4 linked regions of the Homo sapiens genome follow. The protein of the gene in region 1 purifies or fractionates together with the protein of each later gene. This does not show direct contact. Each region holds a gene or a part of one and is shown on either strand. Other genes may lie near its edges. The genes, in order: STX19, STXBP5L, STXBP5 and PRMT3.

Region 1 (6,624 bases):
AGATAGGATCTCACTCTATCACCCAGGCTAGAGTATAGTGGCTCAATTGCGGCTCACTGCAGCCTCTACCTCCCAGGCTCAAGTGATCCTTCTCCCTCAGCCTCCCGAGTAGCTGGGACTACAGTTGCATGCCACTGTGCTTGGCTGATTTTTTAAAATTTTTTGTAAAGATGAGGTCTTGCTGTGTTGCTCAGGCTGATCTCTAACTCCTGGGCTCAAGCAATCTTCCCACCTCCGCCTCCCAAAGTGCTGGGATTATAGGCATGAGCTAGTGCACCCAGCCTCTTTTTTAAAAAAATTAGAAATAAAGTAATCAAAAGCCTTTTTCTAAAGCATCATAGTTTAAAAATTTTTAAGAAATAGACTATTTCAAATTGCTATTGGAGCACAGTGTACACAGGCCTCTGGGAAGGTGAATTTTCCTGTGAAGTGCCTTTGAGAAGGTGCATTTTACTGCCACTGATTTTGGAAAGCAGGATATTTGAGTCTGACCTCTATAAAGGTTGTTTTTTTCCTGGATTTTTATCCATGTAATATCATTCCCTGAACATGCACCACACTTTTATATTTGAATAAAAGGTACTTTAAGGAGCCCTTTAAAATATATTAATATGTCCTTTTTATTAATCTTAATGAATTTACAAGCAAAAAACAAAATATCCTTTTTTTAATATCTGTATACATTATTGATATTAAAGGCAAAACATGGAAATAGAATCAGGTTTCCTTTCAGTGTTATACATCATGGCAATGCGTATTATGTAAACGATGTTTAAAGTGAGCTATAAAGGTTATACTGTGTTTGTCTTGGTTTATGGATCCTATGCCTGTATTTCTTTTGAACATTTAGAGAATATTTATGTGAAAGATCCTTTACATTATTAGGTTATTTCTAGTTTCTTAGGAGTAAATTCCTATGTTTGCTGTGGCCACGGACTGGTGACCACTCTGTTAAATGTGGGCAAGTGTATTTAGTGAAATTCGTCAGTAGCCTAGCTTCATTGGGGAGTTATACAAGAATGCTCTGAGTGTCCTGATCAATTATGGATACATTGAGGCTATTTTTTTGATTGTCACTACCAACGCCCCATGGAGTTTGCCCCTTGTAGCCCAGGTAGTATTATGTAGGCCTAATTTTTCTCTAGTGATTTTTATAGCCTAAGTGGATATCTCACTTCCTGCTATAATCCTGGGCAAGTCAACAGAGTTATTCCTGTCTTTGTATACAGATTATGTTGTATTATTCCTAGTTAACTGTTTCATCTAGGAAACTCAGTTTTAGTTCCCTATAATGCAACAAACTCTAAACCTCAGCTTTAAGGTAAAGTATTTGCCCAGTGTAATTAGCTTTAATTACTACTCTTCACTTTGGCTTTAAGTATGTTTCCTCATCATTTCTGGCACCTGAAAACTTCTCTTTTTTTTTTTTTTTTGAGACGGAGTCTCTCTCTGTCGCCCAGGCTGGAGTGCAGTGGCACCATCTCGGCTCACTGCAAGCTCCGCCTTCCGGGTTCACGCCATTCTCCTGCCTCAGCCTCCAGAGTAGCTGGGACTACAGGCGCCCGCCACCACACCCGACTAACTTTTTATATTTTTAGTAGAGATGGGGTTTCACCGTGTGAGCCAGGAGAAAACTTCGCTTTTTTACTCTAAAATTTAGTGATGTTGTTTTAAAATTTGTCTTTTTTAAACTTACGATTACATCAAATTCTGTATGTTTAGAGAAAGAGGGAGTAACTTCTGTATCTGTGCATTTTGACTGAAAGTCACAGTTGCTTATCTTTATAGAATTAACATAATTGAGAATGTTTCCCTAAATCCTTGTTCATCTGTGTAGAAATTGACTTGATAGGTACTCAAATATGTTTATATGCTGTATATAAATTACATTTTCTAGTAGTTGCATACTCATAACTATATGTATAACTATCCAATTTATTGATCTTATATCTTCATGAATTAGAATGTTAGGCAAAATGAGACAAATAAGCATGTTAGAATTTAAAACATGCAAGGACAGGATTCATATAAGCATAAAATATGAAGCTCATAGTTGTGAAATCATTTAATTGCTTAGACTAGGTGAAATTGATGAAATTACTATTTTATGCAGTCTGTTATGTACCTTAAATTTATTATGTTGGAAGAGTTATATACAAATATGAATCATCTTTTATTATGTTTAACTTGCAGCATTGCTATACAGTTTTGAATTTTACTAGCAAGAACTGTATCTGTGAGCTTAAACATGATATTTAAAAAAGAAAGAACACTAACTCGTATGTATGATAATCAACTTGGACAACTTGTTCTGGGAAATAGAAAAGTAAACTGGTGCGACTCAAATAAAAGGTTCTCTGCCCTATTACAGACACTGAAAATCCCTAGAAACAGAAACATGAGTAAAAATTACCTTGTACTTTTAGAAATATGCCCTGGGATAGATACTTAGTGTATTTATAGATTTTTTTAAAGTAGGCCATTTCTTTTCATAGTTACTGTAATGATTAAATAAAACATTTCAAGAAATATGACCAGTTTTTACCCAAGAGAAAACAGAATATTCTGTTGCTTTTGTATATGAAGTCAACTTGCCACATTTTTCTAGTGCAAGTGAAAGCAGAGGATCTTATTGTAATATATTAACCTCTTTGGCTACTAAAGTGAGGGCCAAATAGTAGTTTCTAAAAACTAAAAAAAAATTGCAAATTGCATATATTGTCTAATTTTGAAGTATCTGACTTTTTTTGCAATGTAAACTTTCAATGCTTTTTTCTACATTTTATTTAGTCTAAATAACTTATTGAATTAACTTGTATAACAACATTAAGATCATTTTTGTTTAAATATGATGTATAATTTTTGAACTTTTATCTGATTCAAGTAAGCTGTACATACATAAAATGATTTTTATATTACATTTAAAACTGCATAGCTGTGAAGATAATGTGTTCGAGGTATTACGTGGCCAATTCTCAAGTCCACCTTTAAAATACATATAAAAGTCATTATTATTTTGATTTGAAATGGAATATTTATTAAATTCTAACATAGTAACAATTATAACTTTGAAAGTATCTAACCTATCTACATATGTTGTATTTAAATGATGCTGATTTAAATTTTTCAAACTATCAATTAAATGCTAACACTTACGTTAAATGGTATAACAAGTATTTTTAATGTACTAGTTGAAATATTATAAAGGTTAGTGAGTACTTCGATATTTTCTGGTAGCCCTTTCACAAGATTATTTTCTCATTTTTTCAATTTTAGAAGATTCTAGTAAACAACAATGAAGCAATTAAGACCATTATAGCAAATTATTTCAGATTTTTAAGGTTATACGTATGTGTCAAATTTGGGTATAAGCTGCTTTTCAGAGTGAAATATAAAAATGTTCTCTAAAGTAAGCACATTCATAGTCTGTCTATAAAAGAAATAATTTTAGATCTGTTTTTACATCTGACTTTCTAGTATTTTTTAAATGAGAGCTTACTTTTTAAAAGACTTAAAAATTTTTTCTTTCCTCTAAAGTTGATTTTTATTATCGTAGTCTATTTTCAAGAGCTTTATACCCAGATCCCAGTCAGCATGTCAGTAATATATGTGAACAAATCAGCTACTGGTACCCCGGTCCAAATCTGAGCAAAACAAGTAACCCTCATTATTTGTTGAGTGATTTTTAAATGTAACAGTGTAACCAGATGTCAGTCTATGGATACCTCATATTAAAAAGTACAGAAAAGAGTCATTATTTACCTTTCTGTTTTCTTCCTTTTGTTGGTTTTCCACCTGCGGTGTTGGAGTCCTGCCTTTGAGAGAATATCTGAATATCATCTCATGTTTTGAACAAATTATCTAAATCTCTGTCTTATAGGGCACAGACTAATTTCTGTATAGTTTTCATGTTGTTAATTTGAAAGCCAAATAATGAAGTCAAATAAGAGATAAAGTTGTACGTTTGCTGTTAATAGCAAGTGAAAATAGATTGCTTACTTCACACCTGGAGAATCTGGTTCTGCCTGTTAGACGCCTATTCTTTAGATTAAAGGAAGATCATTTTCATTGGAGCTAGTCGGTAACAGGAAGTCCTCGTTAAACTGCCTACGTAGAGTATTTGGCACTGGATCTGCAAATTTAGTCCTACATTGTATATGTAATATATTATTCCAAGAAAATGGGTTTGTATTTAAACAAAGGTTACTTTCTTTTCTATAGATATCAAAACTTACTAAAAATATGGAATTAAATAGGAATGAAAAGAAGCTTGGTGTAAAAGCTTTTTTTGTTCCATTTACTTTAAAATGGTTGAAATCTGTCCTATTTTAGGAAATCCCAAAAGAGCTTAGCTCACAAAATCATAGAATTTCAGAAGGAGAACATCCAGGAAAGAGCTCATGTCTGTAAACCATTCATCCCACGTTACTTTTAATTTTTTTTACTTTTTATTATGCCTGCTGTTTTTATTTTAAAATAAATTTTATATAGAACTAAAGTTATCCAGCAATATATGTTAAATCATTTATTTTGTCAATATAACAACTCAAAATTAATTTATACCAGAGGGAAATGTTTATAGGAAGAATTAAAAATGAAAATTTCTCTTGTACTACCAAATTTCAGACCCATTTTTTCTACCTGACTTGTTACTATTTGAGGGCAAGAAGAAGGAAATTGCTGTATCTATCAAAATCATATATATATATATATATATATATATATATATATTTATTTTTTTTTTATTTTTTTTTTTTTTTGAGAAGGAGTCTTGCTCTTGTAGCCCAGGCTGGAGTGCAGTGGCACGATCTTGGCTCACTGCAACCTCCGTCTCCCGGGTTCAAGCAATTCTGCTGCCTGAGCCCCATAAGTAGCTGGGATTACAGTTGCCTGCCACCACGCCCAGCTAATTTTTTTGTAGAAATGGGGTTTCACCATGTTTGCCAGGCTGGTCTCGAACTCCTGACCTCAGGTGATCCACCTGCCTCAGCCTCCCAAAGTTCTGGGATTACAGATGTGAACCACCATGCCCGGCCAATCACATTTATATTTATTCTTTGTTTTAACAGTTCTACTTCCTGGAATCTGTACTCAAAATAAGAAATGACTCCTTTACACACCTACTTTTTATAGCACTCTTTGTAAAAACAAAACACTGGAAACACAAAAGTCCTTCAGCGTAGAACTGGCTGAATAAATGATGGAACATTCAAAGGGGAGCATTTTGCAATTATAGAAAATAGTGAAGATTTTATTATACTGCTTCAGGGTACTTCAAAATTTACTGTTCAGTTAAAACAAGCATGCTGCAGAAGAATATATATAATATGCTAAGTTTTAGGAAGAAAGGAAGGGTAGATATAAATATTGTATATATACACAAATACATAAACCAGTCAATAGCATTGAATATTCACAGTGCCCAAATTATGGTCCTTGAAATACCATTTTCTCCATACGCTTGTTTATATTTTCAAAAAGAAATAATGGGAGGATGAACTAAACACGAATGAAAATGGTTACCTATAAGGGAAGGGAAGGAAAAGGCAGAGAGATAGCAAATAGTTCCTTTCTGATTGTACCTTGTTTTTATAGTTCTGAATTTAGAACCATATAAATATTTTTTTATTTTTATTTTTTGAGACAGGGTCTCACTCTGTCACCCAGCCTGGAGTGCAGTGGCGCGATCTCGGCTCACTGCAACCTCTGCCTCCTGGGTTCAAGCGATTCTCATGCCTCAGCCTCCCGAGTAGCTGGTATTACAGGTGCACGCCACCACGCCTGGCTCATTTTTTTTTTTTTTTTTTTTTAGTAAAGACAGGGTTTCACCATGTTGGCAAAGCTGGTCTTGAACCCCTGACAAATGATCCACCCACATTGGCCTCCCAGAGTGCTGAGATTACAGGTGTGAGCCACCACGTCCAGCCGATATAAATATTTTAGAAATTAAATCTTAAAACAAATACACAAACGATCTCTAAAATGCAAAAGCACCTAGAAAGAAATGAACCTAGGTATATATCTAGGTGATGGCAAAACCACACAGAGAAGTACTATTTTAAGTAATTTTAAAACAGTATTATTGACTCTGCATCTCTAGTGGGATATAGCGTAGAGACAAAGATACGTAACCACAAAGATATGTTAACCTGCACTTAGTAGTCTTAATATTTAGTAATCATATTGATATTATTATGTTAAAATTCCTATATATAGTTGGATAAAACAAATAATGTCATTAGAAACTGTAGTTTTCAGCATAAGTAAAAAGAGATACAAATAAGATCTAAGGCTGGGCACAGTGGCTCATGCCTGTAATCCAGTACTTTAGGAGGCTGAGGCAGGAGGATTGAGCCTAGGAGTTTGAGACCAGCCTGGGGAACATAGTGAAACCCCATCTCTGCTAAAATAATTTTTTAAAAAAAGAACGTTCGAACACTAGCTGGGCATAGTGGTATGCGCCTGTAGTCCCAGCTACTTGAGAGGCTGAGGTGGGAGGATGGCTCAAGCCTGGGAGGTAGAGGCTGTAGTGAGCTGTTGTCACACCTCTGCACTTAAGCCTGGGCAACAGAGTGAGACCCTGTCTCAAAGAAATAAACAAAAACAAGATTTAAGAAGCTAAGT
Region 2 (6,081 bases), about 27 Mb from region 1:
AATAATTGGTAACTGTTTTGTCACCACCAGAGGTTTTTCTGTAGTTTTAAAATAATTATGACAATAATTTTGGTGATATTCCCATAATGACATTTTTGTAAGTAATTGTTTTCAATCTTAAAAATGCTCATTTTTACATTATAAGGCAAATATGTGTTATAAAATCAGTTCTAATTAAATCATTTAATGCATTTTATGCATTCATAAAGTATTTAGTTTTAAAACTTTTTTAGTTTAATAAAGGTTTTTAGGTCACCTTTTTATTCCTATGTAAATTATTATATGTTTTTTATCAAGTAATTCTGATCTGCTAATTAGATTAAACAAAAGCCAAGGTAATGAAATAAACAACCAAAAATATGGAATTTTGTTTGGAAAATTTTTAGTGAATTAATGCAAAGTTAAAATGCAATGAAAGTTTTTTATACTAAAAGGCTTTAAACAAGTAATTTTTTCATACACACACAAACATACACACTACACACACATATACACGTTTGTGTGTGTATATGAAAAAAGTTTAATTTCTTTCATTGGAATAACCATAATCAACTTCTCCTTTTATTTTATCATATATCAAATTGTAATATATAAATTGTAATTTATACTATATCTTAAAGTATATTTATTATATAAAAACTTTATCTTCACTGAGGTATTTTTCTTTTAATTCTGAAGTTTAAAAATTTACATTTTTTGTGATTGCCATTGAATATTCCATATAATTAACTATTTGATTTAGTATGAGATACTTCTCAACTTTCCTGTAAATAGTATTGAACTTATTAATTTGAAAAAAACTGTGTGAATGATTCCTAAAAAGTTATCAGGTATTTTAATGTGATTATTTATTATGACTTAGATTAAATTAAAACGATGATTATTAGTGTGACTTAAATTAAATTTAAACTTGATTTTTTTAAGTCATTAGAGGTACGACTTCAGTATGATGTTGAAGATATTATTACCCCTGAACCAGAAACAAGTCCTCCGTTTCCAGATCTCTCAGCCCAGCTTCCTTCTTCAAGGAGTCTTTCTGGGAGCACTAACACTGTTGCTAGTGAAGGAGTAACAAAGGACAGTATTCCATGCCTCAAGTAAGAGTTTCTACCAAATTTTCAAACAATTTTAGATATTAATCATATGTCTTTGAAACTGTGACAAATGAAATTAATTTTCTCTTATTATCAAGCTATTGTCAGGTGATCTACAATTCTTCAGGGGTTACTCTGGTCTTTTCTTTGAACATCTGTGAAGAGGGCATAATATTTTCACCCTTCATTCACTTATTTATATATTTCCTTCCCAGAAGGACTCTAAAGAAAACATGGCTTTCACAGAATAGGAAGTTTGGCAGGGCAGAAACTTGGTGACATGCATGATATTTCCAATTGAAAAAGTATGTTTATGGGGTGTGATGGCTCACGCCTGTATTCCCAACACTTTGGGAGGCTGAGGTGGGAGGAATGCTTGAGACTAGGAGTTTGAGAGCAGCCTGGGCAACATAGCAAGACCTTGTATCTACAAAAAATTTAAAAATTAACTGGGTGTGATGGTACACACCTGTAGCTCCAGCTTCTAGGGAGGCTGAGGCGGGACAATCACTTTAGCTCAGGAGTTTAAAGTTGCAGTGAGCTATGGTCTTGCCACTGCACTCCAGCCTGGGTGACAGTAAGACCCTGTCTCCAAAAAAATAATAATGATAATTTTTTAAAGAAGTATGTTTATGTAATTTCTTTAGCTTTCTTGGAATCAAAAAGAAAACCAAGTTTACTATCTACTACAAGAGTTCTATATTAGAAAAAAGGATTTCTCTCATGATTGCTAGTATATTTCATAATCTTTCTTTTTTAAAACTATTTATTAATAAGCTAAACAAAGATTTGCATCATGTTCAATAAAACCTAAAGTTAACAAAGCCCATAGTAATATTTTATGATTTTAGTAATAGAGTATAAATTACTACTTACTGCTTCTATACCATCAAATCAAATATTTCTAGTGTTAGCTGGCTGGAGAATTAAACCTAAGCAGGGAATTTCTTTGAGCTGCATATCTACATTTGCCACTCAAAAAACTTTAGACAGCTAGTTTTCTCATTTCTTACAAATATGCTTATGGAAAATTTAGAGATAAGATTTTAGGAGCAAAATTCATGCAATTAGCAGATGCTATACTTTTGTAATCATTGATTGTCCTCTCAAAATTTTCTTTTGATGTACATAAAAAGAAGGAAATATGAGCAAATATTACTGGGAGGAAAATCTACAAAGAGAAAACATCATCATAAAATTTTAGCTAGTGGATATATTTTTTGAAAGTAGCATCAGTAGTATTTGATAATTGGTTTGTTGGGAAGTATGAGAGAAAGATATTAGTCAGCTTTAAAGGAAAATAGGAATTCAGATGCTAGATATGTTGAACTCTTACACTGGAGGGTAGGTTAATGGTCATTTGTTTTATTGTTATGCTTTATAACTGATATATATGTAACATATATTACATTAGAAAAATAATTACATAATAAAAATAACTTAAAATAATATTCTCAAAAGAAAAAATTGAAATGATAAAGGCCAGTTGAAGTTGTGGACCTAACTGGCTGAAAAGCCACATAAAGAAATAACTAAGTAATCATAAGGGACTCAGCATATTTTGAGAAAACTAGAAGGCACCATCCATCTGCATGCTGCCTGCAATGCCTGGTGTTGTATATTTCTGTAGCATGATTCTATGTAAATTCTCAAGATAAGTTTGACCATGTTTATTTAAGCTGTATATAATAGGATTGTTTTTGTTCTTAAAGTGTGAAGACACGGCCAGTGCGAATGCCTCCAGGATATCAAGCAGAACTTGTTATTCAATTGGTGTGGGTAGATGGTGAACCTCCACAACAGATTACTAGTCTTGCTGTAAGCTCAGCATATGGAATGTAAGTAATTAAACTTTTTTATGATATGTATTATTTAGCTAATATGTTTGATTTTTTAGATGTTCCTTGCTTAAGTCCTAAAAATGAAAAGAAGCCCTTACCTGGATTTTTATTAGATTAAACAATATATAAGAAAAATAATTTAAATTTACATTATGGTTTTTTGTTCTTTCTTGAAGTCAAACCTGTGATAGTGTTCCCAATTTTGATGTTAGTAGGAGATTGTTAGGATTTTATTACACTTAAACTGTGTTGTTTGTTTTTATATTGTCTTTTTTTCTCTTTATATTTCATTTTGGATACTTTCTTTTGACTTATCCTTTAGAGTTCACTAACTCCCTCTTCAACTGTGTCTGATCTGATGGTAGATCCACCTATGGAGTTCAATTTCAGCTATTTTATTTTTCAGTTCTAGACCTTACATTTGATTATTTTAAAACATCCTGTTCTCTTCCTAAATTATCACTCTATTCTTTATTTCTTTGAACATATTGAATGTATGACTTTAAAATGTGTTACTTTAAATATGTGTTTGATACTTCCATATTTGGTATCTAGTCTATTACATTTCTTAGTTTTGGGTCACATTATATTATGTTCATGTATGCCAGTTTGTATGATTTTTTTATTAGTTGTTCCTGGTTTTTTTTTTAATTGAGAAATGAACATTATAATTTGAGGTTCTAGATGATACTTTCCTCCAGAAAGTATCTACATTTCCTCTGGCAGTCTAGGTTAAAAAACTATTGAAGGGTCAGAACAACATAATTCAAGCAGACATCAGGTCTTTGAAAGTTGGATTTTATTCCCATTAAAGCCTAATTTAATTTCAGTTAATCCTTATTTCTAGGTTGTAGCCCTCCACAGAGGTTGTGTCAAACTATACTCCCACCACCAATGTTTAGAATGTCTACTTTCCTACAACCTTTCTAACTACAATGTATAATCAAACTTTCCATCCTGGTCAGTTTGTTAAGTAAAGAGTAGTATGTTATTATAATATCAGTAAAATTTTTGTATATCTTAAGTGAAATTGAACATCTTTTCCTGTTTTGTGACATTCTGTTTCTATTCTTTGTCCATTTGTCTGTAAAGTTGTTGGCCTTCATAGAGATTTGTGAAAACTGTTTGCATATTAGGGAAGTTAGCTTTCTCTATAGTGTAATTTGCAATGATCTTCCCTGCTTTTGTTTGCTTTATGACTTTGTTTAAGATGGTTCTTACTTTAAAGAATTTTTTGCAATTCTATTTTTTGTTATCTTTTATGGCTCTGAATTTGTGTCTTATTTAAAAAGTCCTTCCTCACTTCAAGATAATAATAAAAATTAATAAAAACAAAAAAATTATGTTCTCTCTAATATGCTTTTTTTCTTTTATATGTTTAAATCTTTGATCTGTCTGGAATTTTTTTAAGTATAAGATATGAAGTAAGTATTAAACTATATTTTTTCCTGATGGCTAAGAATTGTGCCAATACCGTTTCCTGAATACTTCATCTTTCTATGCTTATTTGGAATCAACTTTTATCAAATAATACATTACCTTATATATTTCACTTTTATTTCTGTACTTCCTAAGCTGAGTCTTATAAGCTCCAAGAGAATGCCTTGAAACCATCAGTAAGGAGTCCATGGAAAAAAGTCTTATCTTTGAGTACCTGGAATTTTCTTCAGGGGGATGTGGAGGATATATGTGAACATAGAGTATTGGGTGCTTGCTTCTTTACTAGAATATTATTTGATGGGAAAGCTGGCAACCACAGTTGATGGATGATGGGAGAGAAGGAATGGACTGTGGGATAGCCTACTGTTTCATTATTTGATACGGTAAGAATATATGATTATTCTCTAGCCCAAGTAATTACTGTGAAAGATAGTTGAGCTCAAGCCATCTTCTGAGTTCACTTCTCTAGAGTTTGACCTGTAAAGACAAGGGGACTTCAGAATTCAGAGACTATAAAGATGTGTCACCTGGTTCAGAAGCTGAAGTTTGTTAGAATAGATCAGATAAAAAAACACATTTCCCTTATAAGGGAACTGTGGAGGTGAAAGTTATTACAGAGCTTCTGAATAACTGACACTTGTATGAAAATGACAGCTTGGACATCTATCTCATAGAGAGCCTCCACTGCAAAAATCCTAGTTCATGTGGCTACTAGAGTAAATTCCACCAAGTTTTAAAGAAATAAATTTTACAAGTATTACTTTAAATGTTCCTGAGAATTATTAAAGATGAAATCATGTTCATCTCATTTTATGGCCAACATAACTCGATGCAAAAACTTGAAAAGGGTATTACAAAAAGAGAAAGTTGTAAGTCTATATCATTTATGAACATGGATTTAAAATCCCAACCAAAATATAGATAAATCTAGCAATTAAAAAAGATAACATATCATAACCAAGTTTGGTTTACACCAGGAATTCAAAGTTTTTAAACATTTTAAATTAATCAGTGTAGTTCATCACATTAGCAAATAAACTAGAAAAACCATATGATGGTCTGGTCAGGAATGCAAAAAACAAAAACATCTGATAAAATTAAATATCCATTTATGACTTCAAAAGAAACTAATAGCTAAAATGGAAGGAATTTTTCTTAATCTGATACATTTTAGCAAATATGCTCTATGGTGAAATGTTAGAGACTTTGTCTTTGAGGAAAAAATAAGAGAAGTTTCTTAGTCCATTTGGGCTGCTTAACAAAATATCTTACAAATTGGTAATTTGTAACAACTAAGATTTATTGCTCACAGTTCTGGAGGCTAGAAAGTCCAAAATCAAGGTCTCAGGAGATTCAGTGTCTGTCTCTCTGCTTTGCTCTCTGCTTCAAATATAGCACCTTCTAGCTTTGTTTGCGCTTGGCAGAAGGAGTGAACAAACTCCCTCAGAATTCTTTTATGAGAAAATGAATTCCATTCATAATGGCGGAATCCTCCCAAAGACCCAGTCACCTTCCCAAGGCCCCAACTCTTAATACCATCACCTTGAGGATTAGATGGTCTGAATTTGGGGAAACACAAAAATTCAGACCATAACATTGTGACCTTGCTTCCCAAAATTTATGTCTTTCTCATATGCAAAATACATTCTTTTGATTCTAATAGCTCCAAAAGTCTTAAAACATTTTAGCATTAACTCAAAAGTTTA
Region 3 (6,081 bases), on another chromosome or scaffold:
GGAATGTTTAATTATATTGGTACTGTATCTTTTCTAGAGAAGATACATAGAAAATCATTTTAGGAAGCAAACTGTGTTGTTTATTATTTTCATGTATTTACACATTATTTTTCCAAAATGTTTTTATTACTCATTTTTTTAAGATTACCTAAAATCCATTGTGATAATAGATTTTTCTTCATGAATACAATGAGCACACTCTTGTTTGGTCAATGAGAACAAAGAATATATTATCTAAATGTTTAATAGACTAACGTAAATTGAGAAATGAAAATATGATGTAGTTAAATATGGACCATTTTCTATACATAGTATGAGTGATTAAATGTTACCTTATGTTTGATCATTTTATATTAAAGTATCTGACATATATTATCTTTTTTCCAGTAACTCTACAAGTATTATATAAGCTAAAGACATCTAAAGTATTTGAAAAGTCAAGAAATAAAGATGACAGGCCAAACACAGACATTGTAGATGAAGATCCATATGCCATTCAGATCATCTCCTGGTGTCCAGAAAGTAGAATGCTGTGCATCGCTGGAGTTTCAGCTCATGTCATTATTTATAGATTCAGCAAGCAGGAAGTAATCACAGAAGTCATTCCGGTAATAACGTCTTAGTTATTTTCATGGTCAAGTTATTTTCATCCACATTTTTAAATTTGTGGATGATTTGGAAGACTTTTTGCAGTCAGTTTTGTGCAGAACTTTTGAAAACACCTTAGTATTTATATTATTATCTCTCTTTTGTAAAAAACAGCATTTTTTGCATATATTTTCACTGATTATTTAAATCCTTAAGTATAGGATATGTTTCCTTTAAGGAAAGCTAATATGAATATGAGTATACTCTAATTTGATATTAACACGAGTACCATACATTCTAAAATCATAATGCACGTTTGTGTGTGTACTCCCTGAGTCAAGAACGTTTTCTTTCTTGCTAAATCCTTATTTTTTGAAATCTTGCTAAATTTTTACCTTTAAAAATCTTCTTGCCACTGAAGTTTATGTAAAGTGTGTGTGTATGTGTGTATAAATTGTGATAAAATGAGCAATAATTATTAGGAGTAAGTAAACTACCTTACTTTTACAACAGATGCTTGAAGTTCGATTATTATATGAGATAAATGATGTGGAAACTCCGGAGGGTGAGCAGCCACCACCTTTGCCAACACCCGTGGGAGGGTCCAACCCTCAGCCCATCCCTCCTCAGTCTCATCCATCTACCAGTAGCAGTTCATCTGATGGGCTTCGTGATAATGTACCTTGTTTAAAGTAAGTTATAAAAAACTACAGAGGAGTTTTGGATATTATCTTTTAATTTATATAAATTGTAAGCATTAGAGCTATGGTAACATTTTCTTTTGATATAGCAAAATGGCATAAGAATGGTTCTTCCTGTGTTTTGCTATGGTTAGTCCAACTCATTTTTCTATGACATCAAGAGGAATATGATTGCATTTCATGATATTATCCTTAAAATATTAAGGTTTAATCTCCAAACATTCTCGTAAAGCAGCAAGGATCTAACCTGTATATATCGCTCAGTCTTCTAAATCCATCAGTGTTTTTAGTCTTGATTTATATGTAGCTTGGATTTATGTTCCGACTGCTTTCTACAACTCTGAAAATTCTGTTTAAGTCTTTTAAGACTCAGTTGTTTTCTAATCATTTTCTTTTTCTGAATCTTCACTAGCACCACCGTATCTTTATTTAAAACGTTTTATTGTTGCATCCTAAATTTAAATATATCTTGCTTTTATACAGAGATAAATTGGATGAAGTTTTATTTTTTCTGTCCAATTTTTATTATTGAGTGGTTAAAATGTTTAAATGATAGAGGCAGAGAAATAAAACAATGAGTAAGAAGTTAAAATCATTGAAAAAGTACATGAAGACTATGTGATTAATAGTATATTTACAAAGAATTCAACTAGGATAATGACGGAAAGGTGGTTCTGGTAGCACTCAGAGAGATTCAGTAGATTGGTAGAGGGCAAAAGCCAGAGTGTACTAGGTTCAAGGTAGAGAGGGTAGTAAGTAAGAGAAATAATTTGCATTTATTAAAAGGACCAGGCTTTGCACTATTTTACTTTAATCTGCTTGAGTCTCTTCTACTGGTAGATAAATAATTTCTGGGAAGAATGTCTGTGTAATGAATAATGCACTCACACCAAAGATAAAACGGATAGATTTTTTTTATATTACAATCATTTTAAAAATACAGAGTTTTAGAAAATTATATGTTTACAAAAATTGAAGGTCATGTAGTCTAAGCTGGTGGCTCTCATTTGCATATGATTTTGTTCCCTAGGGGACATTTGGAGATGCTTTTAGTAGACACAACATGAGGAAGGGAGATGCTATTGACACTTAGTGGGTAGAGGCCAGGGATAATGTTAAATATTCTACAATGGACAAGGCAGTGCACACAACAAAGAATTACCAGCTCAAAACATCAGTAGTGCCAAGGATGAGAACCTCTGATCCAAACAGTATATACCCATTGAGGTTAAGCAGCTACATTTCTCAGAAAGGTATCAAGTTTTTCTTTCTCTCCTCTCCCTCTCTCATACCTGTACTAGAATATACACACTTATAACTGTAGTTCTAGCACATGTTTTAACTAGAATGAGACTTGGGAATACAGAATTCTACACTTTTCCCCTTTATTACTTCTTCAATACTACTTTATACTTAAAATTGTAAATGTTCCGTTAATGCCCTTGTTTCTGATTTCAATGTTTTTTTCCCAAGCCCTTTGTTACATTTAATTTTTATGACATACGTAGTACAATTTGTCTTTGGGGCATTTTTTGTAACGTATTTCTATATTTCTGAAATAGTGTTTTCAACTACTGAAGTGACATTTTAACAAAATAACAATTCCATATAAACATACATTATCTTCAACAGAATTAGAATGATTTATTTAATTTGTACTTCATAATTTCTGATGCCTCCAAGTTTTTTAGGCTTGTGGCCAGAGATCCAGCAGTATAAAACATTAAATTCTTTTCCTACCTGAAGAAAAAACACCATCAATGCACTGCTTTCTCATGACAAGATAGGTCAGAGGAAATAGTACTGACAGGAGAAGCAGTACTGTTTGGACCAGAGTGACAAGACCTCTTACCTTGGCTTTCTAGGTTAAAGTTAAAGGCCAGCCTGATAGGTGAGTCTTTGTCCTCTGTTCTTAGAAAGGCCTTTTTTTTCCAGTTTTTTTACTGACTGAAAGAGCAAGGATAATAGTTAAGGCAGCAACCAGCAGCAGCTGTTAAAACCAGCAAACCAAAATGCAGAGTACAACAGTACCCAAATCCATTTTAAAGGTAATACTGACTTCGTTCTGCAATTATGAGTTTTCTTTATTGTTCATGGACCTGAGATTATGGTATGGCCATCTTTCTTGTTTGGGAGGACTTTTCATACTTGTGATGGAATGTTATGGCACACTATTAATCTTTTGTAATTATTTAATGGAATGTCACTTAATATAAGAATTCCTTTTAAGCTGCTGGTTAGTCCCAGTAGACAGAGAGTCTCATTAGCCAATCCATTAATGATACATGTGAGGAGAGTCCTTTTTGTTGTTGGCATTAATTGTTATCTTTTGTGTATGGATACACTTTGCCAATCCTGGGATATACACGCAATAACATCTTAACAGTTTTTTCTGAATCCTAAAATAACTAATGACTGTGATTTGATGGTTTTTTTTCCTTTTGAATATCACTGTGGAACTCTAGGTATTTTTTATAGGCAATTTGTTTTAACTTACTGAATTTAATCAACTTAACGTGATTTTGTCACAGTTTTCTAGAGGGAGCTTCTTTTAAGTTGGTGTTTGTGTCTTCTTAACACCACCTCAGAACTTTGTGACCATCCTTAATTTCTGTCAAGATGTTCTAGACTTGCTTTGAATACTACTTGCCCTCACAGGGTAACAGACCAAAATATGATCTTTAGAAATGTTTGTAACATTATTTTTAATAAGCAGTATATTGTTATAGTAGACCACCTGGTGACAAGAGCTAAAAAAAATGGGGGGGTTGTTTTTTAAAAAACAGTCATTAAAACTCTTTTATTTTTCATTGAGTTTTTACATTACTATATAATGTAAATAAATAATTTTAAATCTCTTACCCAAACCACTCTTCTCCTATAATTTGATTAGCCTGGAATTATTCCATTTAATATTATTTATCTGTTAACAAAAGTAAGTCCAAAATTGTAGTATTAAAATTACCACTGATAGTAAAACACTAGATGAATAGTAAAATATAACATGACAGCTGTCCTTTAGACCTTTGAGCATATGACAAGTGATTCATAAGGCAATTACATTGTTTTGAGTTACTTTAATAATTTTTCTTCTGTTTTGGTTTTTTGTAGACTAACCTCATGTATAATAAAACTTTATAACAACTAACCTCATGTATAATAAAACTTTATAAATTCATTTTATCTTGAGACTTAATATTTTAAGGGACAGTTCTTTTTGGAAGTAGCGTTTGGTGTCAGATAGAGGTAAACTGCCCTGTCAGTATGTTTTATAAAATGGATGGAACTTTGAAGCAGTTCAGACTTTAAAGACACACATAGGAGATTCAGCCAGAGTCCTGTCACCTGTAATTGCTTACTAGAATCTACGAAGGAGCCCAGTAATTATACTTCTCTTTACCTATCTGGATTCTTTTTTTTTTTTTTTTTTTTTTTTTTTTAAAGAGACAGGGTCTCGCTCTGTTGCCCATGCTGGAGTACAGTGGTGTGATCACAGCTCACTGCAGCCACGACCTCCTGGGCTCAATCAGTCCTCCCAACTCAGCCTCCCATGTAGCTGGGACTACAAGCGCACACCACCTTGCCCAGCTAATTTTGTAGTTTTTTATAGAGATGGGTTTTCGGCATGTTACCCAGGGTGGTCTCAAACTTGGAGGCAATCTGCCTGCCTCGGCCTCCCAAAGTGCTGGGATTACAGATGTTAGCCACTGTGTCTGGCCCCCATCTGTATTCTTAACACATTAAGAAATAAAATAATTTCAGATGGTGACTAAAAATATCACCTTAATTATTGTTAAAGGTAAAGATGCCAACTAGCACAAGAGCCAGGTAGGTTTCCTGGTACTGACTGACCTGTATACAGAGATAGCCTTATCCTCCCAGTCGTGGCAGTATTAAGAACACTGCCTTTGCAGCAGCAGAAAAGAAAATGCATCCCCTGGGCAGACTTGCTCCCAAATGAACACAGGTTGAGGGGAAAATGAGAGGGCTACATTAATTATTTCCATATTTACCGGCTACATAGGGACTCTACCATTCCTGGGATAGAGTTAGAAAGAGGGTAGAGAGAAGCCCAGGAGTTCCACTGACACTCAAGAAAATACAACAGATGTGGAGAAGCAGTCCTGCTAATTTGAGTGTGTGTGTGTGTGTGTGTGTGTGTGTGTGTGTGTGTGTGTACACATGCTTGATTTTTGTTTTTGGCAGCCATGGGGGGTGGTTTGGCTGGTCACATAAATGCAAATTCTTACTAACTTTAATAGATAATGTTATATATTGTTACATCAAGTTATACATTTAAATTACAACATTACTTAAAATTTTAAGTATTGATTTTTAAAACTAGAAATATAAACAAATCATAGTAAAAAATATCATAAAGTAATGGCTCTATTGATACAGTTATGGTTATTTTGATCCTTTTTCTGGATTTTAGAGAAAACCCAAGAACAAGAATGCATGGGAAGATTGTAAACATAGGGATTGCATGATAACTATTTCCTTTTCTTCAGCCATTATCTTAAAATTAATTTGTTAGTAATAATAATTCTCTAGTATTACCTTACTAAAGGACCAATTTTTGGAGACAGAGTCATGAGAGAGATAACTAGTCTTTTAGTAGAATATTGTACAAGCTAGTGAAAGACATAAAGTACAAGTTTTGGACATTTTTGTCTAAAATCTATATATTAGTGATTTTTTTAAAAATCACAAACAACTTATACCTCATTTTTTTCTTTTAATAGTCTTCAAATAAATGCAGGTATTTATTAACTTGACATTGTTTTGGTCC
Region 4 (6,081 bases), on another chromosome or scaffold:
TACGTTGGGAATACTACAAGATCACTTTTGAAATAAGGCACTTGGGGAGTATGCCAGCTGTAAAATTACATTTTATGCTTTATTTCTAAAAGCAGTTTGAGCTGTGCCAGTTCAAAGCCTCTGAAAGCAGAGTTGACACTTAGAGGAGAAAAGAATCTCAAGTAGAGAAATTGTATGACTTGAGAGAAACAGACTCTATCAAAGGGAACTCTCTTAAAAGCCTTTTGATAAAATCAGTGATATTATTTGACAAATAAATTCACTTTGACATTTAAAGGATAATTGGTTTTAGGTATAAAATGGGACTCAGAAGTACTAATTCCCTTTAAAAGTGCTGGATTCCCTTCCTTTCAGATACAAGTGTGTTTGTTTTTTCTTAATTGGAAGTAAAACTAGAAACCAGCAGAGTTAAAAAAAAAAAAAAAGTGTATATGTAACATGAAATCAGTATTTAGACTTCTTAGGGGACTATTCCATGAAGCTATTGCTTGATTTTTCAGGTTATTCACATCTGCTGAAGAAACATTTTCACACTGTAAGTCTGAGCATCAGTTTAATATTGACAGCATGGTTCATAAACATGGTGAGTAGTTTTTAGAATAAAGGCAATTTAATTTGTGAAATTTGGGCAGGCATGGCAGCTCACACCTGTAATCCCAGCACTTTGGGAGGCTGAGGTGGGTGGATCACTTTAGGTCGGGAGTTCAAGACCAGCCTGGCCAACATGCTGAAACCCCACCTGTACTAAAATACAAAAGTTATCTGGGTGTGGTGACGCACACCTGTAATAGCAGCTGCTCAGAAGACTGAGGCAGGTGAATTGCTTAAACCTGGGAGGCAGAGGTGGCAGTGAGCTGAGATGGTATCACTGCACTCCAGCCTGGGCAACAGAGTGAGACTCTTCTCAAAAAAAAAAAAAATCTGTGAAATATAAGTTCAGATTTTATAGTTTTTCAGACCCTTTTCTGTACGAGTTTAATATGGCGAATCACACAGCAACATCTTGTGGAAATGGAGTTTTTTTGACAAGCGGTCCTTGAGAAAAGATGAATAAGTCACTCTTCTAGACAAGATTCACTGTATTTAAGCTTATATTAGCTTTTCAACTAAAAACAAAAACAGACTTGGCATGTGATTACATTTTTACATTTTATGTGATTACATATTAGATTTAGGGAGAGCAAGTGTAGATGTAGGACTTGAAAAAGGACGCAGGTCATTTGAAAAAAGACAATCAGCTCAAAGCATGACATGAACTTCACAGCCTACGAGACTGAGTTTTATACAAAGTTCGGTAGAGACTGGAAAAAGAGTGATGAAGTTAAGATTAATATGCAAAATACTCAGGTGATGTTTCTATTGAAACTTTTATTTAAACACACTTGCCTTACAATTAAGGCCTTCCACTTTAAATGGATGTAGAAGAGCTATACTACAATAAAATTAACTAAATAGGCCAGGTGCTGTGGCTCACGCCTGTGATTCCAACACTTTGGGAGGCCAAGGCAGGTGGATCACAAGGTCAAGAGATTGAGACCATCCTGGCTAACCCAGTGAAAACCTTTGGGAGGCCAAGGCGGATGGATCACAAGGTCAGGAGATCGAGACCATCCTGGCTAACCCAGTGAAAACCCAACTCTACTAAAAATACAAAAAATTAGTCGGGCATGGTGGCATGTGCCTGTAGTCCCAGCTACTTGGGAGGCTGAGGCAGGAGAATTACTTGAACCCGGGAGGCGGAGGTTGCAGTGAGCTAAGATCATGCCACTGCACTACAGCCTGGGTGACAGACTGAGACGCCGTCTCAAAAAAAAAAAAATAATAGGTTTTTTGGTCCCTATATTTGTTGACAACTAAGAAGGGACATTACTGAAGAATAGCAAATACTAACAGGTGTTTCAGTGTCAGATAAATACGTGATATCACATGTTTATAAATCATAAATTCAACTGCAAGTACTTTCGTAAGGCATAAATGACAGCCTCATTTTTTAATGTTTTTTGTTTTTGTTTTTTTTTTGAGACGGAGTCTCGCTCTTGTTGCCCAGGCTGGAGTGCAATGGCACGATCTCGGCTCACTGCAACCTCCGCCTCCCGGGTTCAAGTGATTCTCCTGCCTCAGCCTCCCAAGTAGCTGGGATTATAGGCATGCGCCACCACACTGGCTAATTTTGTATTTTAGGAGAGACAGGGTTTCTCCATGTTGGTCAGGCTGGTCTGGAACTCCCGACCTCAGGTGATCCGCCTGCCTTGGCCTCCCAAAGTGCTGGGGTTACAGGCATGAGCCACTGTGCCCAGCCTTAATGTTTTTAATGTTGCATTTCTAAAGTATTAGAATCATACTTAAGATAGAATTTTGTTTTGTTTTTTTTTTACTTACCGATATAGGGGGTTTGTATACTATTAAAGTTTTCTCATAACAAGAGTTTTATGACAAATAATTGGTTGGTTGGATGTATTACTGCTTTCCTTTGTTTTAAATGCTGCTTCATTTCTGGAAAGATACGAGAACCAGATAACAAGCCTTATTGGGCTTGCATCATTTAACTTCATGTAAAAGCTAGTATACACCATGTCCTGGCAAAATTATAATTTGATACACACCATAAAAATTAGGGATTTAATACTTTCAGCTCTGATATCAGTTGCCAAATACTTGGTAAAATGTGGATCTTAATTTTCCAGATTTGTATTGTTCTGACAAAGGAGGAGTAGAATTTTAGAAATCAGTTTTCCATCTTTTTAGAAATACTAGAAAAGCTTTAATTTGTCATTTATGGCTGCTTCTCAAGATATTCAGAAGTATCATTGTATTACTACTTCTAATTCTTAATAAAATTCAAAATATAAGTAGTAATTTAGAGGTCAGAATTATTTTATTGTTTAATCAGAGAAGGCTTTATAGAATAGGTCAGTTAAACAAAACTCATTATGTTAACATAGGTGAATTATCTTTTTCCCCCTTTAGGACTTGAATTTTATGGATACATTAAGCTAATAAATTTTATTAGACTTAAGGTAAGTTGACAGCTTAATTTATAATTTCGTTTAGAAATCAAAGAAATGCTACAGTGACTGTCAGTGTACTGATTATTTAAAAGAATATGAGGAACTGCATTAAATTTGGTACTCATCATATTGGGGGAATCACGGACATTAGGAGGTAGCACAGCAGAAAGCACCATGTAAATGTCTACCATAACTAACAAATATTGTTTTCACTGCATCTAAGAGATGAATCGGTGTATGTGAAAAAGTAATTCAGTGTCAAATAAAGGGAAATACTGATGGACAGGATCTGTAAAATCAGAAATAATTTCTAATGTGATTTTAAGTATTTTGGTTGCTCTTTTTTATTCTGTTTTTTTTCAGATACTTTGTTTTTTTTTTTTTTTGTCCTGTTTAAATGAATGTTTAATGACATGACAACGCTTTCCCCAAATCCAAACAGTAAAAAAAACTCTGCGTTGAAACTGCTGGTTAAGCAGTCGTCCAGCAAGTTAATGAAATGACAGGCACGTAGACTTTTTGGAGACATACTGACTTTGTGTAATGCAAACATGATTTCCTTTTTGTTTAATTTCTGTAGTTTTTACTAAGGGGATTTTGTGATTATATGTAATGAAAAAAACATGAGATTAATTTTATATCCAGAATCCTACAGTTGAGTACATGAATTCCATATACAACCCAGTGCCTTGGGAGAAAGAAGAGTATTTGAAGCCAGTATTAGAAGATGACCTTTTACTTCAATTTGGTAAGATGAACATAAGTGTATCTCCTTTAATTAACATAAGGCCGTTTGTTAACGGCAAAATGGAGGTAGAGTGTTTTAGGAAAAGACATGCTTTTTAAAATTATCTAAATGCTTCATCAGGTAGTTAGTTTCAGTAGAAAAGTTAAGTTGCTTAAAAACTAATAGTCGGCCAGGTGTGGCGGCTCACGCCTGTAATCCCAACACTTTGGGAGGCTAAAAGGGCAGATCACGAGGTCAGGAGATCCAGACCATCATGGCTAACACAGTGAAACCCCATCTCTACTAAAAATACAAAAAATTAGCCGGGCATGGTGGCGGGCTTCTGTAGTCCCATCTACTCGGGAGGTTGAGGCAGGAGAATCACTTGAACCTGGTATACAGGTGACAGAGCAAGACTCTGTCTAAAAAAACTAAAAACTCTGTGATCAAAAGATTGTCTGGTTTTGCCTTTAATTGCTTCATGTATTTTGGAGCTCTTATGTGAGGTTTATACACATTTATAATTGTTATATTTTACTGAAAAATTGGTCAGCCTTTGCAGTAATTCTTCTCTGCCCGAAAGAAGTATCCAGGTGATTTGAACATCCTGAGACAGAAGGTAGATGTAGATGTTCATCTTTCTGAATATGGTTTAGGCCTTTGAATTAGACTGTTCTAGCAAATTGTAGTTAGGAATCTTAATATTTACTGAATCCTCTTTTTTTCAAATCTCTAAGTTTAATCTTTAATATATAATTATCTGCATATTCTTAACATTAAAAAGTTTTTATTATGACTAATTTTTATTGCAGCAGAAAGCAAAACAGAAACTGGCCAAACAGTTTGAAGAATTTTGAAATCAAAATACAAAATGAGGTTTGTAGTAGGAAGTAGAAAATACAGTATACCAGCCTTATATAGTTTGGAAATATTTTGTTGTGCTGATTAATTTTTGGTGAATTAGATAGTGAATGATGCAGTTTTTAAACCTCAGTGACTCAATATTCTGCCACAGTGATGAGAAGTTAGTGACACCCTGCACTGCTTTTATAACAAGAATTCAACTTAGGCTGTAGTCTCTTATAGTATAATGCATTCGTTTGGCTTAGCTATTTTGTCCTAATTCCAAGGACGTGTCTTCACAACTAAAAAATGAATAGGAATTTTTACGAAGTCACATTTCTTCCAGTGCTATCCTGAGGGGAAAATGTAATATTTGCACTGCTCACTGCCTTAAGTTGATCCGAAAGTTAGATCAGTAAATGGACACTGATTTTGTGAAATTCACTAACTACATATATTAACTTCTCTTTGTAGAGAAGTGAAATTAAAATTAAATACTAGGAATTAGGATATTTAATAATATCAGCAATAAGACTTTAGTGTATAGATTTCACTCCACCTTGCCCAGGATGAAAAATTATTGAATGTGTAGAATTCTTTACACGCTGTCCTTAGGAATGTTTTTTTTTTCCTCCAGTTTTATTCAGGTATAATTGATAAGTGAAAATTGTGTACATTTCAGGTATACAATGTGATGATTTGATATGCATATACATTGTGAAATGATTACCATAACCAAGCTGATTAACATCATCACCTCACATTCCATTTTTTTATTTTTGTGGTGAGAACAGTTAAGATCTATTGTCTGCAAATTTCAAGTATACAGTGCAGCATTTTTAACTATAGTCACTTTACAATAGACAGATGCCCAGAACTTACTCATCTTGTAGCTGAAAGTGTGTACCCTTTGACCAACATCTCCTCATTTCCACCACCATTCCACTCTCTGCTGCTGTGAGTTTTTTTTTAATTCCACACAAGAGTGAGATCACACAGTATTTGTCTGTTTGTGTCTGGCTTATTTTGCTTCACATAATGTCCTCCATGTTCATTCATATTTTCATATATGGCAGGATTTCCCTTAAGCAATATCTGAATTTAATACCTGCTACAATAAGGACATGGGCTAGGAGGTGGCTTTGTGTAATGGGAAGAACGTGGGCTGGGAAGGCAGGTTTGGGTTTAAATCTTAGTTCCTCCATAAACAGATATATAACTTTAGGATAGTCACTTAATTTCTCTGAAATTTATTTTTTCCTTGCCTAAAATAGGGATAAATACATCTTAACTGTGTTTTGAGAATAAAACAAGATGTAATGATGTACTGGAAAGATACCTGCTGATCAATAAATATTAGGTTTTTTTCTTTCTACTTTTTTCTTTCTTCCTGGATTTGGTTGAGTATAATTAATAATTAATATTTAAATATATGTTCAGTTTAGCCAACTAATGAAAAACTTAGACTAACAGCATGCTCTTTGAATTCAAATTAAAATAGTG

Evidence for each region.
Region 2: the proteins of STX19 (region 1) and STXBP5L purify together in Homo sapiens (affinity purification with mass spectrometry; 3 studies listed by BioGRID and IntAct, with this or other methods). This does not show direct contact.
Region 3: the proteins of STX19 (region 1) and STXBP5 purify together in Homo sapiens (affinity purification with mass spectrometry; 3 studies listed by BioGRID and IntAct, with this or other methods). This does not show direct contact.
Region 4: the proteins of STX19 (region 1) and PRMT3 purify together in Homo sapiens (affinity purification with mass spectrometry; 3 studies listed by BioGRID and IntAct, with this or other methods). This does not show direct contact.

What each region holds. Positions count from the first base shown.
Region 1 is NC_000003.12:94,024,605-94,031,228, forward strand, and holds the start of STX19 (syntaxin-19), read right to left. Parts: upstream 3,994-6,624; 5' UTR 3,763-3,993; intron 1-3,762. UniProt on the Homo sapiens protein: Plays a role in endosomal trafficking of the epidermal growth factor receptor (EGFR).
Region 2 is NC_000003.12:121,256,237-121,262,317, forward strand, and holds part of STXBP5L (syntaxin-binding protein 5-like), read left to right. Parts: intron 1-924; coding exon 925-1,097; intron 1,098-2,806; coding exon 2,807-2,932; intron 2,933-3,782; coding exon of another isoform or gene 3,783-3,789; exon of another isoform or gene 3,790-4,278; intron 4,279-6,081. UniProt on the Homo sapiens protein: Plays a role in vesicle trafficking and exocytosis inhibition.
Region 3 is NC_000006.12:147,315,128-147,321,208, forward strand, and holds part of STXBP5 (syntaxin-binding protein 5), read left to right. Parts: intron 1-387; coding exon 388-608; intron 609-1,101; coding exon 1,102-1,280; intron 1,281-6,081. UniProt on the Homo sapiens protein: Plays a regulatory role in calcium-dependent exocytosis and neurotransmitter release. Inhibits membrane fusion between transport vesicles and the plasma membrane.
Region 4 is NC_000011.10:20,389,244-20,395,324, forward strand, and holds part of PRMT3 (protein arginine N-methyltransferase 3), read left to right. Parts: intron 1-500; coding exon 501-583; intron 584-2,967; coding exon 2,968-3,017; intron 3,018-3,023; exon of another isoform or gene 3,024-3,514; intron 3,515-3,653; coding exon 3,654-3,756; intron 3,757-6,081. UniProt on the Homo sapiens protein: Protein-arginine N-methyltransferase that catalyzes both the monomethylation and asymmetric dimethylation of the guanidino nitrogens of arginine residues in target proteins, and therefore falls into the group of type I methyltransferases.